Regions from separate parts of the Homo sapiens genome. Here region 1 is linked to region 2. Evidence: fine-mapped expression QTL. A gene starts in region 2. The other region holds a variant in brackets. All regions are shown on one strand. Distances are between the middles of the regions. Region 1 overlaps WWC2 (WW and C2 domain containing 2). Region 2 holds the start of WWC2 (WW and C2 domain containing 2).

Evidence for each region. PIP is the estimated chance that this variant, and not a neighbour inherited with it, causes the effect.
Region 1: its variant is the best candidate, but not a certain one, in a credible set for the expression of WWC2 in adrenal gland (GTEx, PIP 0.77).

The regions. Positions count from the first base shown.
Region 1 is chr4:183,216,685-183,225,024 of GRCh38, reverse strand. All of the region lies in intron 4 of WWC2 (WW and C2 domain containing 2), which reads right to left. Among named protein-coding and RNA genes, the nearest start is that of WWC2-AS1, 20 kb to the left of the region's middle. The variant C/T (reference allele first, on the strand shown) is at 4,196.
Region 2 is chr4:183,095,757-183,104,096 of GRCh38, reverse strand. WWC2 (WW and C2 domain containing 2) reads right to left here and starts at 4,840. Exons shown (of 23, transcript NM_024949.6): 1 at 4,475-4,840. The coding sequence starts at 4,605. It overlaps WWC2-AS2 (WWC2 antisense RNA 2), which reads left to right and starts at 4,898. Exons shown (of 1, transcript NR_024008.1): 1 at 4,898-7,076. RefSeq lists a silencer at 5,787-6,081 and enhancers at 5,787-6,081, 7,427-7,721.

The DNA of each region.
Region 1 (8,340 bases), 120 kb before region 2:
GAATACTAGGATCAAAGGTATGAGGAGTCAACATAAAGAGGTTCCATTATCACAAGATAGGAAAAGTTGTGGATCAATAAGCATAATAATTACAATGACCTAAAACATGTCAGTTATGTTTAAATCTGTGAGCACAAATTGATACTTTAAAACCTAAACAAATAGGCCAGGTGCAGTGGCTCACACCTGTAATCCCAGAACTTTGAGAGGCTGAGGCAGGCAGATCACTTGAGGTCAGGAGTTTGAGACCAGCCTGACCAACATGGTGAAACCTCATCTCTACTAAACATACAAAAATTAGCTAGGCGTGGTGGCACATGTCTGTAATCTCAGCTACTCGGGAGGCTAAGGCACAAGAATCACTTGAGCCCAGGAGGTAGGGGTTGCAGTGAGCTGAGATGGCGCCAGTGCACTCCATCCTGGGTGACAGAGCGAGACTCCGTCTCAAAAAATAAACAAAAAACAAAAACAAAACTAAACAAAAACCTCAACTCTGTTGGTTATCTCTGGCAGGTGCTAGACAGAGATATGGCACAGTTTATAATTTCATCTATCTTTCCAATATGAGCTGAGGATCAGTAAATAACAAACAGAAGTGGTGATGCAGGGGGAAAGTTTCTCTTTATAGAGGTATTCCAACAAATAAATAAATAAATAAGGAATGGTATACTTAGACTGTAATATTTTTGCAATCCCTAACGAAATAACAAATCTAGACGATAAATTACTACTACAATAAAAAAGAGACATGCACTTCATGATGGATATATACAGCACAACCCATGGTGAATGTCCCCGCCCCAAAAAAACTAGATCTCATAATCCTCTACATCTAATTAATAATTTACAGGAATTATAGGAACAAAGGAATTTAAGTACACCATGGGGATGTAAGATACAAAAATCAGACAGCGAGGAATTCTACAAATGACCTAGTTTTGTTTTGTTTTGTTTTAAGTTACAAAGAAAAGAGGGCGATTAAAATTAGACTTCAGCTGGGTGCGGTGGCACACACCTGTAATCCCAGCACTTTGGGAGGCCGAGGTGGGGGGGATAGCCTGAGGTCAGGAGTTCGAGACCAGCCTGGCCAACATGGCTAAATCCTGTCTCTACTAAAAACACAAAAATTAGCTGGGCATGGTGGCAGGTGCCTATAGTCCCAGCTACTCAGGAGGCTGAGGCAGGAGAATCACTTGAACCCAGGAGGCAGACGTTGCAGTGAGCCGAGATTGCCGCACTGCCCTTCAGCCTGGGTAAGACTTCTGGGTAAGACAAGGTGAGACTCCGTCTCAAAAAAAGACAATAAATAAAAAATAAAATAAAATTAGACTTCAGAAATATATTTACCAATTGCAATATATAGACCATATTTACACCCTGATTCAAAAAAGCCAATAGAAAAACAAATGAGAAACATAAATATTGATAAGGCATTTGGACAGCAATAAAGAATTCTAGTTAACTTTTCCAAAATAATAATGGCATTGTAGTTACTTTCTTCTTAGCTTTAAAAATACATGCTGAAATGTTTACAGGTGAATGATACACTATTTCAAGTTGTCATGAAAATAATTCAGAGGGTAGGCTGAAAGTAAAAGATAAAATGGATGAGATGTGACGGAAATATGGGAGAAAATTATACTATTCTCTCTACTCATGTATATTGTTTAGTATTTCCCATAATAAAGTTTAGTCATGTGTCACTTCATCAGATTACACTCTTAGAAATACGATGTTGGGCAATTCTGCTATCACGTGAATATCACAGAGTACACTTACACAGAACCAGATAGCATAGCCTGCTACACACCTAGGCCACTTGGCATAGCCTATTGTCTTAGGCTACAAACCTGTACAGCATGTTACTGTACTGAAAACTGTAGGCAACTGTAACATAATTGTAAGCATTTGTGTATCTAAACATATCAAAAGATAGAAAGGGTATAGCAAAAACATGGCATCATAATCTCATGGGACTACCATCATATATATGTGGTTTGTCATTGACTGCAGTGTCATTTATTTGGCACGTAACTATATTTTTATTATTTTATTTTTTGAGACAGCATCTCACTCTGTCTCCCAGGCTGGAGTACAGTGGCACAATCTCAGCTCATTGCAACCTCTGCCTCCCAGGTTCAAGTGATTCTCGTGCCTCAGCTTCCTGAGTAGCTGGGACTACAGGTATGTGCACCACCACATGCGACTAATTTTTGTATTTTTATTAACAGTAGAGATGGGTTTTCACCACGTTGGCCAGTCTGGTCTCAAACCCCTGGCCTCAAGTGATCTGCCCGCCTCAGCCTCCCAAAGTGCTAGGAGTGAGCCACCACGCCTGGCCACATATTTTTATATGTAAGGTAAATTTGTTCTAGTAACATGTCCAGATGATATTCTGAAAATTTCTCTCTTGTTCCCCCTCCTACATCCCCAAATTAGGATTTTGATATTGCATCCTTATATTGTTTCTATTTTTTAAAATATCTTTCATTTATTAAAATTTGTTTATATCCTTCAAAAATGTTTTATAATTTTCTCTAGATAGGACCACTATATTTCTTGATAAAAGTTAATTCTAGATATTTTATGATTTGGGTTTGCTATTGTGAATATGATTTTTTAATTTTATATATTATGAATGGCTATCATAGATATGTTAAAAGATTTTACATATATATAAAATACATATAGATTCTATTTATTAGTTCTAATAATTATTCATCTGAATCTTTTCCTCCCACATAGAAAATGGTATTTTAACCATATTTATTTATAATAAATGGCACAAATTTTAAATGTACAATATGATGAGTTTAGACAAGTATATATAATCATGTACCACCAGGACGACAACAAAATATTTCCTCACGCCTCTTTATAGTCTATCTCTACCTGGCCCCTAGCAACCACTAAACTTTCACTGTTTTTGAAATTCATCCATGTTGTATCAGTAACCTGTTCCTTTTAAATTACATTTTATGGATATATCACAATTTGTTTATCCATTTATCTATTGATAGACATTTAGGCTGGTTCCCAGTTTAGGCTAATAAGCATAAAGCTCTCATAAATATTTACACTGAATTCGTTGTATGGGTATATGCTTTCATTTATATTGGGTAAATACCTGTAAGTGTGATTGCTAGATAGTATGTTAAATATGTTTAACTTTGTAAGAAATCGCTAACCCGCTTTCCAAAAGGGTTGTACCATTTTGCATTCCCATAGCAATGTATGAGACTTCCATTTGCTAATGGCTTCCCATTAAGCACTGCTGTAGCTATACCCAATAAATGTTTATACAGTGTATTTTCCCTTTTATTTAGTTCAAAATATTTTTAAATGTTCCTCATGAGCTCTCTTCTTTGGCCAATGAATTATTGAGAAGTATGCTAATAATTTCCAAGTATTTGACAATTTTTCCAGATATATTTCTGTTTATGATGTCTAATTTAATTCCACTGTAGTTATACTCTATGCATTTGAGTCCCCTTAAATGTACTGAGACTTCTTTTCATATTCTAGAGTAAGGATTACTTTTGTGATGTTCCGTGTGCACTTCTGCTGTTTTTAAATGGTGTGTTCTATTTTATAAATGTTAATTGGATCAAGTTGGTCTGTTATTGTTTACATCTTCGACAGCATTGCTGATTATCTGACTACACATTCTATCATGTCCAACTATAATTAGAGATTTGTCCTTCACCTTGCAGTTGTATTGGTCTTTATTCCAGGTATTTGAAGCTCTGTTAGCATGTGCATACATCTTTAAGATTCTTATGTCCTTTGATGAACTGATCTATTTATGATTATAAAATCTCTAGTAATAGTCCTTGTTCTGAAGTTTAGTTTGTCTGATATTAATATGACAACTGCAACATTCTTCGGATTTGTATTTTCATGATATATCTTCTTGAATATTTTAATTAACCTATCTAGGCCTTTATATTTAAAGTAGGTCTGTTGCAGCTATCATGAAATTGGGTCTTGTTTTAACCATTCTGATAATCTTTGCCTTTTAATTGGAGCATTTAGGCCATTTATTAATACATTTAGTATATTAGCTTTCTTATTGTCATATTTTCTTCCTCTATTCTTGCCTTCTTTTGGGTTAACTAAATTTTTTCTAATGGTTCCATTTTATCTCCTTTATTGGCTTAAAAGTGTTACCTTTTTTTTTTTTTTCTTTTTGAGA[C/T]GGAGTCTCGCTCTGTCGCCCAGGCTGGGGTGCAGTGGCACGATGTTGGCTCACTGCAAGCTCCGCCTCCCGGGTTCACGCCATTCTCCTGGCTCAGCCTCCCGAGTAGCTGGGACTACAGGCGCCCGCCACCACGCCCGGCTACTTTTTTGTATTTTTAGTAGAGATGGCGTTTCACTGTGTTAGCCAGGATGGTCTCAATCTCCTGACCTTGTGATCTGCCCACCTTGACCTCCCAAAGTGCTGGAATTACAGGCGTGAGCCACCGCGCCCGGCCATTTTTTTTTTTTTTTTTAAAGTGGATACTCTAGGGCAGGAATCAGCAAATGACAGCTCATCTTGTGGCCTGATTTTTGTTTTTGTTTTATGGCCCACAAGTTAATAAAGGTTTGTAAATGTTTAACTATTATCCAAGAAAAGTAGAAAAAAAGAGCAAAAATCTGCACCAGAGACTGCACATGGCCTGCTATATGAGTTTTCTGATGCTGCAGGACAAATTACCACAGACTTAGCAGCTTAAAATTAATTACAATTATTTAATAGCTCACTAGGTTCTCTGGGCTCTCTGGTCAAATTATCACAAAGCTGAAATCAGGGTGTTAGCCAGGCTGAGTTGTCATCTGGGGCTTTGCAGAAAAATCCACTCCAAACTTCATTCTCACTTTTGGCAGCATTCAGTTCCTTGTGGCTCTAGGACTGAGACTTGTATTCCTTGCTGGCTATCAGTCAAGGTTGCTCTCAGTTTCTTCCCATGTTGGCCTCTCCCTCTGTAATCCAGCAATGGTACATTTAAACCCTCTTATGCTTTGACATCTAATGTCCTCCCCTACAACCAGCCAGAGAAATTCTGTCTTTAAAGGGCTTGTGTGTTACCTCCAGTTCCCCAGGATAATTTCTCTACCACCCAGAATAATTTCTCTATCTTAAAGTTAACTCTGCCATATTAAATAATGAATCATATTCAGCCTGGAAATTATGAAAGGCATGCATACTAGGAAAGGTGGGGGAGGGGAAAACCTTGGAGGATTGGAAAATATTTTAGAATTCTGCTTACTATACCTGCAACATCTAAAATATTTACTATTTGGATCTTTATAGAAAAAGTTTGCTCTAATGTATAAAATGTGCAGTCTACTTCCAATAAAAGTCACTACTTTATGAATAGTCAAAGTGCCTTATGACAGCATCCTTCCGTTCTCCCCCATTCTGTGATGTCTTATATTTTGCTTTTAAATATTTTATAAACCTCACAACCTATTTTATTATCTTTGTTTAAATAGGCATTTTTATTTAAAGAGACTTCAAATTATTTAAAAAGTCTTGTATTTGAATATGTATCATCTCTAACATTTTTCATTATTTTATTTAGATCCAAATTTCCAGGTGGTATCATTTTCCCTCTGCTTGAAGACATTACCTTTAACATCTAATATGTTACAGCTCTGCAGGCACTCAGTTCTCTTGTTTGTCTGAAAAATTATTTTATTCTTTATTTTTGTGGTAAAATATAAATGTTAAGACTTACCATTTAAGTATACAATCATGTGGTATTAAGTGCAACCATTATCACTGGTCATTTCCTGAAATTTTTCATTGTTCTAAACTGAAACTCTGTCCCTATTAAACAGTAACTCCTTTCTCTTCTTCCTCAGCCCCTGGTAACCACTGTTCTATTTTCTGTGTCTATGAAATTGCTTATTCTAGGTACCTTACATAAGATGAATCATATTTGTTCTTTTGTGTCTGGCTTATTTCACTTAACATAATGTTTTCAAGGTTCATCCATGTTGTAGTATGTACCAGAATTTCATTATGTTTTAAAGCTTAATAATATTGCATTATATGTATATGCCATATTTTGTTGACATTTACCTGTGATGGACACATAGGTTGTAGGTATGTAATAGTTAATTTTATGTGTCAATTTGGAGGATATTTTTGGATAAGATTAATTTTTAAACTGGTGAACTCTGAGTATACAGATTGCCCTCCATAATGTGAATATACCTCATCCAATCAGTTGAAGCCCTGATCAGAATAAAAAAACTGACCTCTCTAACCTAGTAGGAATTCAACAGACTGCCTTTGGACTTCATCTGCACTGCCAGCTTTCCTGGGTCTCCGCCTGCCAGCCTTCAGACTTCATCTGCACCATCAGCTTTCCTGGGTCTCCAGGCTGCTGGTCTTTGGACTGGAACTGTACTGGCTCTCCTGTGCCTCCAGTTTGTCAGCCCATGCCGCAAATCTGGACTCGCCAGTTTCCATAATTGTGTCAGCCAATTCTTTATAACAAATATCTTCCTAGATTAGAAGATATGTATCAAAATCTATATAGATATATATCAAAAAGTTAAATTTAGAATTACCTTGTGATCGAACAATTCCACTTCTGGATATATACCCCAAAGAACCGAAAGCAGAGACTCAAACAGATACTTATATACCAATGTCCAACCTGTGTTAGTCAGTTGTTTTTTTTTTTTAAGTAATAGCTTTCCTAATAGGTGTGAAGTGATATCTCCTTGTAATTTTGATTTGCATTTCCCTAATGACTAGTGATGTTTATCATCTTTTCATATGCTTATTGGCCATTTGTATATCTTTGCAGAAATGTCTATTGAAGTCTCTTGCCCATTTTTATACTGGCTGTTTTGCCTTCAATTTAAAAGATATTTTCACTACGTATAGAAATCTAGGTTGACAGTTTTTCTTTTAGTATTGGTACTCTTAAAATACCACTCCACTATCTTATAGTTTGTATTATTTCTGATGAGGAGTCTGTTGTAATTCTTATCTTTATTCCACTGTACATAATGACTTTTTCTATGGCTACTTTTAAGATTTTCTCTTTACCATTGATTTCTGGCAATATGATTATGATGTGCTTTGGTATGATCTTTTTTTTTCATTCTGCCTTGGGTTTGTTGAATTTCCTATATTGATGGATTAATAATTTCAGTTTCTGCAAATAATTGTTGTGATTTCCTCCCCTGCTGTTTCTAGGGAACTTTAATTACACATGTCTAACTATCTGATATTGAACCACAGGACACTGACATGCTGATAAATTTTTACCAGACTTTGTTTTCTCTGTGTAATTCATTTTCGGTAGTTTCTATTCCTATGTCTTTAACTTCACTGATCTTTTATTTGGTAATGTATAATCAGCTGTTACTCCCATATAGTTATTTTATTTCTGATATTGTATTTTTAATCTGTAGAAGTTCCATTTTGTTTTTTTTAATATATTTTTTCTCCCCATTTTCACATTTTCCTTTACATTCTTGAGCATATGTATAACATGTTTTAACATGTTTGTCTGCTAATTAAATTGTACCTGTCATTTCTTCTTTTTGTTGTGGATCATATTTCCTTGCTTCTTTGCATACCTGATCATTCTTAACAGCTTTATTGATGTATAACTAGCATATAATAAAGTGAATATGTTTAAACTACATACATAAGTGTTGACACATGTATATACACATGTAACTGTCAATACACTTTTAGAATATACCCAACACTCCCAAAGGTTTCCTGATGCCCTCTTGGTAAGCCCTCTTTTGCCCCTCCACACTACTCTCATCCCCAATACACATGAAAAATTCTGACTAGATACTGGCCATTGTGAATTTTACATTCTTGGTGCTGGATTTTACTGTATTATCTTAAAGGATCCTGGACTTTGTTCTAGCACACAAATAAATTATTTTAAATCAATTTGATCCTTTCAATGTTTGCTTTCAATTTTTGTTAGAAGAAGTCCAATGCAGCACTAGCCTCAGACTAATTTGGTCCCACTACTATGGCATTACCCTTCTGATGTTTCTGTTCAAGGTTCTATGTCTCTATGCTGGCTGATGGAAACACAAACTATTCCCAGCCCTATGTGAGCTCTGAGAACTGCCCTATCACTTTCTTTCTCCAGCCTCATGGTATTGTGTACCATGGCTACTCAATCAGTATTCAGTCAAAGATTTGAGGAGACCCTACTAGAAATCTCTAGACTGGCACTTGCCTGCTCTTGCTCTCTTCTATCTCTGTAGCTCCCTTCTCTCTGGTATTTCCTATATATTCTAGCCACTTCTCCGCCAATGAACTTTTCTCTTCTGTCTCATCAACTCATGCACACCACTAGACTATGT
Region 2 (8,340 bases):
TCCCAGCTACTCGGGAGGCTGAGGCAGGAGAATCACTTGAACCCAGGAGGTGGAGGCTGCAGTGAGCCAACATCGCGCCATTGCACTCTAGCCTGGGCGACAATGTGAGACTCTGTCTCAAAAAAAAAGAAATTACTTAGACTTTGAAAGAAAGACAAGGCCAGGCCGGGCGTGGTGGCTCATGCCTGTAATCCCAGCACTTTGGGAGGCCAAGGTGGGCGCATCACAAGGTCAGGAGATGGAGATCATCCTGGCCAACATGGTGAAACCCCATCTCTACCAAAAATACAAAAAAATTATCTGGGTATGGTGGTGCCTGTAATCCCAGCTACTCATGAGGCTGAGGCATGAGAATCACTTGAACCCAGGCGGCGGAGGTTGCAGTGAGGCGAGATGGCACCACTGCACTCCAGTCTGGCGACACAGCAAGACTCCGTCTCAAAAAAAAAAAAAAAAAAGAGAAACACAAGTCCAGGTGCGGTGGTTCATGCCTGTAATCCCAGCACTTTGGGAGGCCGAGGCAGACAGATCACCTGAGGTCAGGAGTTCGAGACCAGCCTGGCCAACATGGTGAAACCCCATTTCTACTAAAAATACAAAAAATTAGCCGGGCGTGGTGGCAGGCGCCTGGAATCCCAGCTACTCGGGAGGCTGAGACAGGAGAATCGCTTGAACCCGGGAGCCGCAGTAAGCCGAGATCACGTCATTGCTCTCCAACTTGGGCAACAGAACGAAAACACCGTCTCAAAAAAAAAAAAAAAAAAAGACAATACAGAGTTCCTCTGATCCTAGTCATATGCCTCAAACGGGTGTGGAGAGCCAAAAGTTAACTGTGACATCAATGATATACCCAGCTGGCACCCCCTTCCTCCCTTTTCACCCTCCCCACCCCCCAAGATTATTTTTATTCAGTTAGAAGGTACAGGTTGCTCAACATCTGACCCTTGCCATAAGCCACAGATTAGTGTCTATCAGTGGGTTTTAATGGAAAGTCACTTTGCATGGTGTGAAATCTTTCAGTTCAACTAGACAAAGTCATTGTATCTCTGGGTAACATTCAATCCAAGGATAGAAAATGAGCAAAATTCTACTGGGAGTTGGTAAAGCCAACCCACCCTATCTCTGAGGCCTGCCCACTTAAGCTCCCTACTCCTCCAAAAGGCAATGAAGCCAATCCATCCCACCTTTTTCTCCTTTGTTGAATGTAATTAAAAAAAAAAAAAAAAAAGCACCAGGCCATTTGGCCAAGACCTATGGCCTACCATAAACACCAACTGGTATGTTCAAAAGGGTCCATGGTGAGCAAAAGAAGAGGGGGTAAACCTACAAAATAACACTCGGGGAGTGGGCCCATGCAGGCAGGGTAGGGGGACAAGGAATTAATCACAAACAGGGAGATTTCCCCAGGATTAGCCTAGTCACTCAGCCTGAAAAATAAACACTGGGCAAAAAGGTTCTGCCCCTCTGTGCACTCCACCCAAAGACCCCTGAACATGCGCAAGCGTCGAGACAATTTAAAGGAATGATTAAGGACACATGCTGTAGAGTCAAGCTGTCTGGCTTTAAATCCTAGCTCCACACTTAACAAGGGCTACTTCTCTGTGACTCAATTTCCTCATCTGTAACTGGAAGATGACAGTAGTACCTACCTCACAGGACCAACGGGAGAATGAAATGAGATCACAGTTAAAGAGCTTAGCAGAGTGCCTAGCACACAATACACACTGAGTAAATACTGTCCATGCTAGTATTTCTACTATTTCCAGGGTCACTCAGTTCCTAAACTGGAATGTCAACACTACACTAATACAATTAGGCTGGGCCCTAATGGTGAGCCCACAAACACCCCTATGAAGAAGATGATATTATCCTCATTTTAGAGCTGAAAAATGGAGGTTTAGAGGGATTCAGAAACTCACGTAAACTTAGTCAATAAAAGTAAGAAGTGGAGCAATAAAAGCTTTGATCACATCCCAGCAAAGTTTGAATGACGTCATTCACCTCCAAAAGCTTAAAAGCATTTTAGAATAATGCTTCAGCATTCTGGCATGACTACCTGTTGAATGAAATTATGTTCTTATAAAATGCCCTAGCCTCCCCTACTAAATCGGCATAATTATCTGTATAATCAGAAATATTCAACAAATTCTGATAGACTATCAAAAACACAAAATTCTTTTCCTTAACAGAATAACATAAAAAATATGCAAGGTAAATCATCGTGACCATTCTAATTAAATGGCTTAAACAGTTCAAAAGTACTGCAGACCCATAGTATATCAAGTTGTTTTTCTTTCAGAATTTGTAAGTTGATCCTGCAGAAGAATCCACACACTCCTATTGGCCTGTGTAACATCTCTCTTTCCATATGTTTGGTAAGTGTGTAACAAAACTGACAGGAGTTAATAGTTACTCCAAATATACGTTCCCATCAGCTCTTACTCTATTTAGTAAGATTTAGTCACTTAATTGCCCTAAAAGAAAATATAATCAAATTTAAACTGAGTATATAATGGTGACTCTGATCTCAACAGAGTATCTTTTAAAACTCTGAGATCCAGAAATATTTGTAAGTCGTCAAATTTATGTCTCTGAATATTTAAGACCTAACAGCTGCAAGGAAAATTGGAAAAATAAAAAGCTATCTTAGTCAAAACTATTTGTCCCTATCCAATGAATTGTTTATCCAGTTTCCTGAAAATAGTTCATAATAATTACTAATCCATTAAGAGTTTAAAATAAAGGACATGCTTGACTTGTGAAAAAAGTAGTGATATGGATAGCCAAGTCATATAATTTCACTCCACTTTCTATTTACTTTACCCAGACATTACATATTCTTGTAATCCTTTCCGGTAAACACAACTGAGATAATATAGTAAAGCATGTAAACCGAAGAAGAGAACCTAGAATGCCTAAATATTTCAAGAATTTATTGTTATTTCAATTACCTGAAACTCCAAGTATCAGAAAGCAGAAAGAATTACCACACAACTGTAAAAGTCAAATATTTATACAGGTGCCTTAAAAGCCGCAGTTGGGTGCACACCATCAGCACTGACATTTACTATCTGTTAAGTAGTTTCAAAGTGCAATAGCATAAGTCAAATAACTGGCTTGGAGCGTGAAGTTTATGACAACAACTAGCACGTCTGGAGACACTGGGAAGGTGTGATGCCTGTCACAATTTTCATCAGGCCAGCAACAGGCAGCCAGGCTGCGGCAAGACCGAACCTCAGCACAGGTGCCTTTTCTCATTTCAGGAGGGAAACCTAGGCCCGTAGCTTCACGGATAATTGAACAAGGATTGTTCCATAAATTTATAATGTTATTTATAACTTTCTTGTAATTGCCTTTTAGTAGCTTTCAAAAACAACATTTTTAGGGCAAAAGTAACTGAGATTATAAAGTAGTTAGGTATTTCAGCTTCAAATTGAGAAAAGGGAAAATGTTAAATAGGAGAAGCACCTAAAAAGTATATAAAGCCCAAAGGGCCACATTCAATAAAGTTATAATTTTCAGAAATGACAAAAGTCCAAATGTCGAAGTTATCCCTGGTGGCACGTTATTTAAATTTACAATTAGGAATATCTCCTTAATGGATAATTTACAAATTTATAATTAGGAATACCTCCTATTATTCTTACAATAATTCTAAGAAATTTTAAGGGTAAAAAAAATATGGGACACAGAAACATTTGTGAACCTTCAGTTCCTGAACCAATTTAAAAAACAAAAAACAAAGAAACCAGGCTAAGCTCAAATCAGAGTGCCTCAATACCCAACGTTAATTTCACTACATCTCCCTTCCAAACACAATATGCCTGTTCCCGATCTGGGAGTCGGTTCAAGTTTTCAGGTGAAGACTAACGACAGACAGCGAAACCCCCAAACGCGCGTTTTTAAACTCTGAGGGGCAAAGTCAGTCACACCCACTAGCAGGGCCCGGCGGGGGGCGGGAGCCCCTTCCCAGCTCGGGACCTCCGGCCAGTCTGGGCGCCCCCGCCAAGAGCTCGCAGCCCAGGCTCCCGCGCCAAGGACGGCCTGAGGGATGCCACAGGTGGCCCGGAGGGCTCGTTCCCCAACTGGCAGTGAGGCCCTAGCCCACCCCCGCCGCCCAGAGGCCGAAGGTGTCCTGCAGCCTCCACGTGGGCACCTCGAAGCCTAGGGAAGTTCCTAACAGGGCTCAGGTGGCCCCTCGGGTCCGTTAGCCTGGCGCGCGGCGTCGGCCCGGGGCAGCGACTCCAGCCTTGCCTCGGGGCCGGGTCCCCGGAGGGGCGTCGGGAAGCCGGTGGGCGGAGGAGCCCGGGTACGGGCGGCTCCTCGGCCCCGCCGGAGCAGCCAGCCCCACATCCCTCCCGGGACCCCTCGGGGCACCGCGGGCCGGCGCCGCCCCAGCCCCCCGCGCGGCCGGGTCTCCGGGACAACAGCCGCCGTGTCCGAACGGGCCCGCGCCCCCGCGGCCGGCGCCCACCTGTCCCGGGGGTCGATCCAGCTGGTCCTCCTGGTGTTGTGGTCAATGTAGAAGACCTTGCCGTCGTAGTCCCTGGCCTCCTCCCAGCCCCGGGGCAGCGGCAGCTGACCGCTCCCGGCCCTCCTAGGCATGGTCGGCGGCCTCGCCGGCGAGCGGCGCCTCCATAGGTACCGGGCGCGGGACGCGGCGGGAACGCGGCTGCCGGGCTAGGCTGCCAACCCGCGACGCGGGCGCCGGCGAGGGGCTGAGGGGCGCAGGGCGCGGGGCGCGGCGGAACCACGCGCGGGAGGTGCCTCAGGAAACGCTGTTCGCGGCCCCGCTGCGGATCAGTCCACCATGTCTGCGTCGGAGCCGGCGAGCGAACCCTCCTCCCCCTCGCCGCCGCTGCCTCCGCCTCTTCCTCCTCCTCCGCCCCGTCCCCCTCTGGCCGCCGAGGGTCGCGGCGCCCAGGCTGCCGGAGCCGCCGCCGTCTGGGCTCGGATCCGGGAAGCTGCGGCGCTGCCGCGGCAGCGGCGGGCCCCTCATTTGCATGCGATTAGCATGCGCCCGCCCGCCTCATCTGCATGCGCATTCCTCGCGCCGCATTCCTGAGCTTAACCCCGCCGCTGCCGGCGTCGCCGCACCAGCTCGGACGCACTGCCCCGCGGGGCCGCGGCTCCAGGTGGGAGGAAGGCGGGCGAAGGAATGTGCGGCCAGCTCCCTCCCCTTGACCCCAGATAGCTCCCCTGGGCCAAACGCCGAGAGGTTTTAGAGTTTCTGGACGGGGAAGATTGCAAAAGTCTCCGCAACCTTCTCAACCTCTTTCGTCTTCTAGGGAAACCACAAAACTTTCGAGAGGAAAGGGGTGGCGGGCGGGGAGCTCTCCTCCGGAGAAAAAACCTCAACAAGCGGAGAGGGCACAAAGGCTCCCCACGCCGCGCCCCGAGCCCCTCCGGCACCCCAAGGGCGGTCCGGGGTGGTGGGAAAGCGCCAAGCCCTGGGAGTGCGTCGGTGGGTCCGGGACGGCGGGGCCTCCGCCAGGGCTCCTGGCCCTCGATGACCTCGGCTGAGACCGCGAGCCGCGCGGCGGAAAGCGGAGGAACTCCCGTCCGGCCCTGTAGCCGCCCGCACCGCGCCCCGTCACCCGCCGCCCCTTCGCGTCCGGGCGCTCCAGCCGCGGGGCCCCGGAAGCTCCTGGTCCCTGGCCTCCCCTGCTTGGTTCGGGGCGGTTGGCCGTGGACGCGCCCCGACTCTAGTCCCTTCCGTCCAGCCGCCCGCCCCAGGATGTCCCCCCACCGCAGCCCCGCCGTGGCCAGGAGGTGTGGGCGGCCACGCCGGAGGGACCCACGGCGGCGCCGGACGCCCGCCCTTCCTAGGCCCTGGCCCGGCCGGGGTGGGCCGGGACGTTCCCTGTTGCATAGGCATTTATTTATTCAGCAGCTACTACGTACGTGCTGGCCCGCACTGCCGAGGGACCGGACGCCTGCCCCAGGCGGGACAATGCCGGGTGCAGCGCTGGCGGGGCCTGGACGCCAAGCTTCAGGGTCCCCAGCCCCTCAGTCAGAGGGGGCGCCTCCCAGGCCCTGGACTCCTCTCCAGCCGGGTCTACACCACCGTCCCCCGTCATCTTCTTCTGGGTTACTGAGCAGCTTCTTTTAAAATAGCAACACCGAGGAAGGCCCCGAAGCCCAGTCTTGCACCTCGTGGTGTGAAGTCGTTTAATCCTGCCCGCTAATGCGTAAGGACTTTCCACCGTGTGCAGGACTCCGCGCTGGGCAGGGGCTCTCGCAGGGTTTGAACCGACCTCCGCCTCCCCTGCGGGTTCACAGGCCTGCGAGGAAGTCGCGTGAAGGAGATTCGCTACTGTGTGAGGCTGGCCTGCGCGGCGTGGGCAGTAGCTGTCCGGGGCTGGGGACAGCTTTCGGCTCCCCAGGCCATCCCGTCGGGGCATCTGCGGCCAATCTCGAAGGTGGAGAGGCTCAGGGTTGGAACAGACTTCACGGAAGGGGTCCTAGAAGAGGAAAGGGGTCGTGTTTGCCCTTAGAGCAGTCTGGGCGTGAAGCGGAAACTTTAAACCACCAGAAACTCTGGAGAGCTTGGAGCACCTGGGAAGGAGCAACCAGAGTGGGCCGGAGGTAGGGAAGGAAGGCACCCACGGCGAATTTGCCCGCTTTGACCGCATTTAGGGCGGCCGCTTGTGCAGCCAGCCTTCTGGAAGGTAGGCTTTGCGCTTGGTGAAGAGAAGCCCCCACCTCCGGATCTGTGTTCCGCCCCAGTCCATTCATCAGGAGGTGATCACACAAGTCAAGCTTCTCTAGTTCCCGGTGGAATGAGACGCCCTGGTGGGGTCTTAAGGTTGAACGTTTGAATACTGTAAAAAAGATGGGACCTGCCTACAATTAATCTCTCACACTACTGAGCGAATGTGCGTTGTTTTGGACTTCCCTAAATTGGCCCAAATGCATAGCCAACACTTGAATTGCGGTGTACTAACAACATCATTCAGCACCAAACCAAACCATTCTTATTTAAACCTTGCTTCCTAGCTTATTTATTTCCCAAACAACTTGAAAACATTTGTTATACTAAAATGTCTACATCTTACTATTAAAAAAAAAAAACCAAAGTAACACACTTTGCTGCTGCCGTAATTTTATGTCACTGAGATGAACTATTCTACAATACTTGTAATTTCAAATTTGTTAAACTTTCAGCTAAGTAGTTTTACCCAAATTCTAAAACCAGTGAGGAATCCAAAATAGCACGCAGCATTAAATGACGTTTATTGTTCCATAAATCTTCAGACTTCAAAAAGAAACGCTAAATAGACAAACAGAACTCTAAAGCAATTAAGAGACAAGCTCGCTGCTTCTTCCCCACTGACTGGCAAGGAAACATTTGGTCATACAAAAGCCATTAAAATGACGGAAAGGAGAGTTGCCACTCTCTAGCCTTTTTTGTTCTGATCAAGTTTGAACTCTGCTGTTCGGAGTTCACACAATTTACGTAGTAACAGACCTTCAGAGAATTCCTAACGGTCAAGACAATGAAATTGCATTTATATCTGTAAAAGGAAAAGAAACATGAAGATTATCCCCATTTTAGAGGTGGACACATTTAGATTTGATTTGAGCTCCAGATGATCCTTGGCAAAGAAAGATGATGCAATCCGGTGTACAGGACGCCATATTGCCCTAGCCTGGAACCGTGTTCTAGCCGCTGAAGAGCCTATTCTGTGGCTTTCAAAATGTTCTTTTCTCCTAGCTTTACGTTTTCTCTCCAGCGCTAAATCCGTGGGGATAAGCCACCATAAACAAAGCTCCCACTGTCAATGTCCTAATCTTGAGTGGCAGGAAAATTGGTAATATCAAAAATGGGAGTAGACAGTGAAAATTATTTTAAAAGATAATTCTATTATGTACAAATTTAAAAGATATCAGGTGGGCCGGGCGTGGTGGTTCACGCCTGTAATCTCAGCACTTTGGGAGGCTGAGGTGGGCGGATCACCTGAGGTCAGGGGTTCGAGACCAGCCCGGCCAACATGGCAAAACCCCGTCTGTGCTAAAAAATACAAAAATTAGTCAGGTGTGGTGGCAGGCAGCTGTAATCCCAGCTACTCGGGAGGCTGAGGCAGGAGAATCGCTTGAACCTGGGAGGCGGAGGTTGCAGTGGGCCGAGATCCTGCCACTGCACTCCAGCCTGGGCAACAGAGCAATACTCCATCTAAAAAAAATAAAATAAAAATAAAATATATCAAGCACACCTATAGTCCCAGCTGCTCAGGAGGCTGAGGCAAGAAGATCACTTGAGGCTAGGAGTTCAAGGCACTATAACCGTGCCTTTGAATAGCCACTGCATTCCAGCCTGGGCAACATAAGGAGACCCTA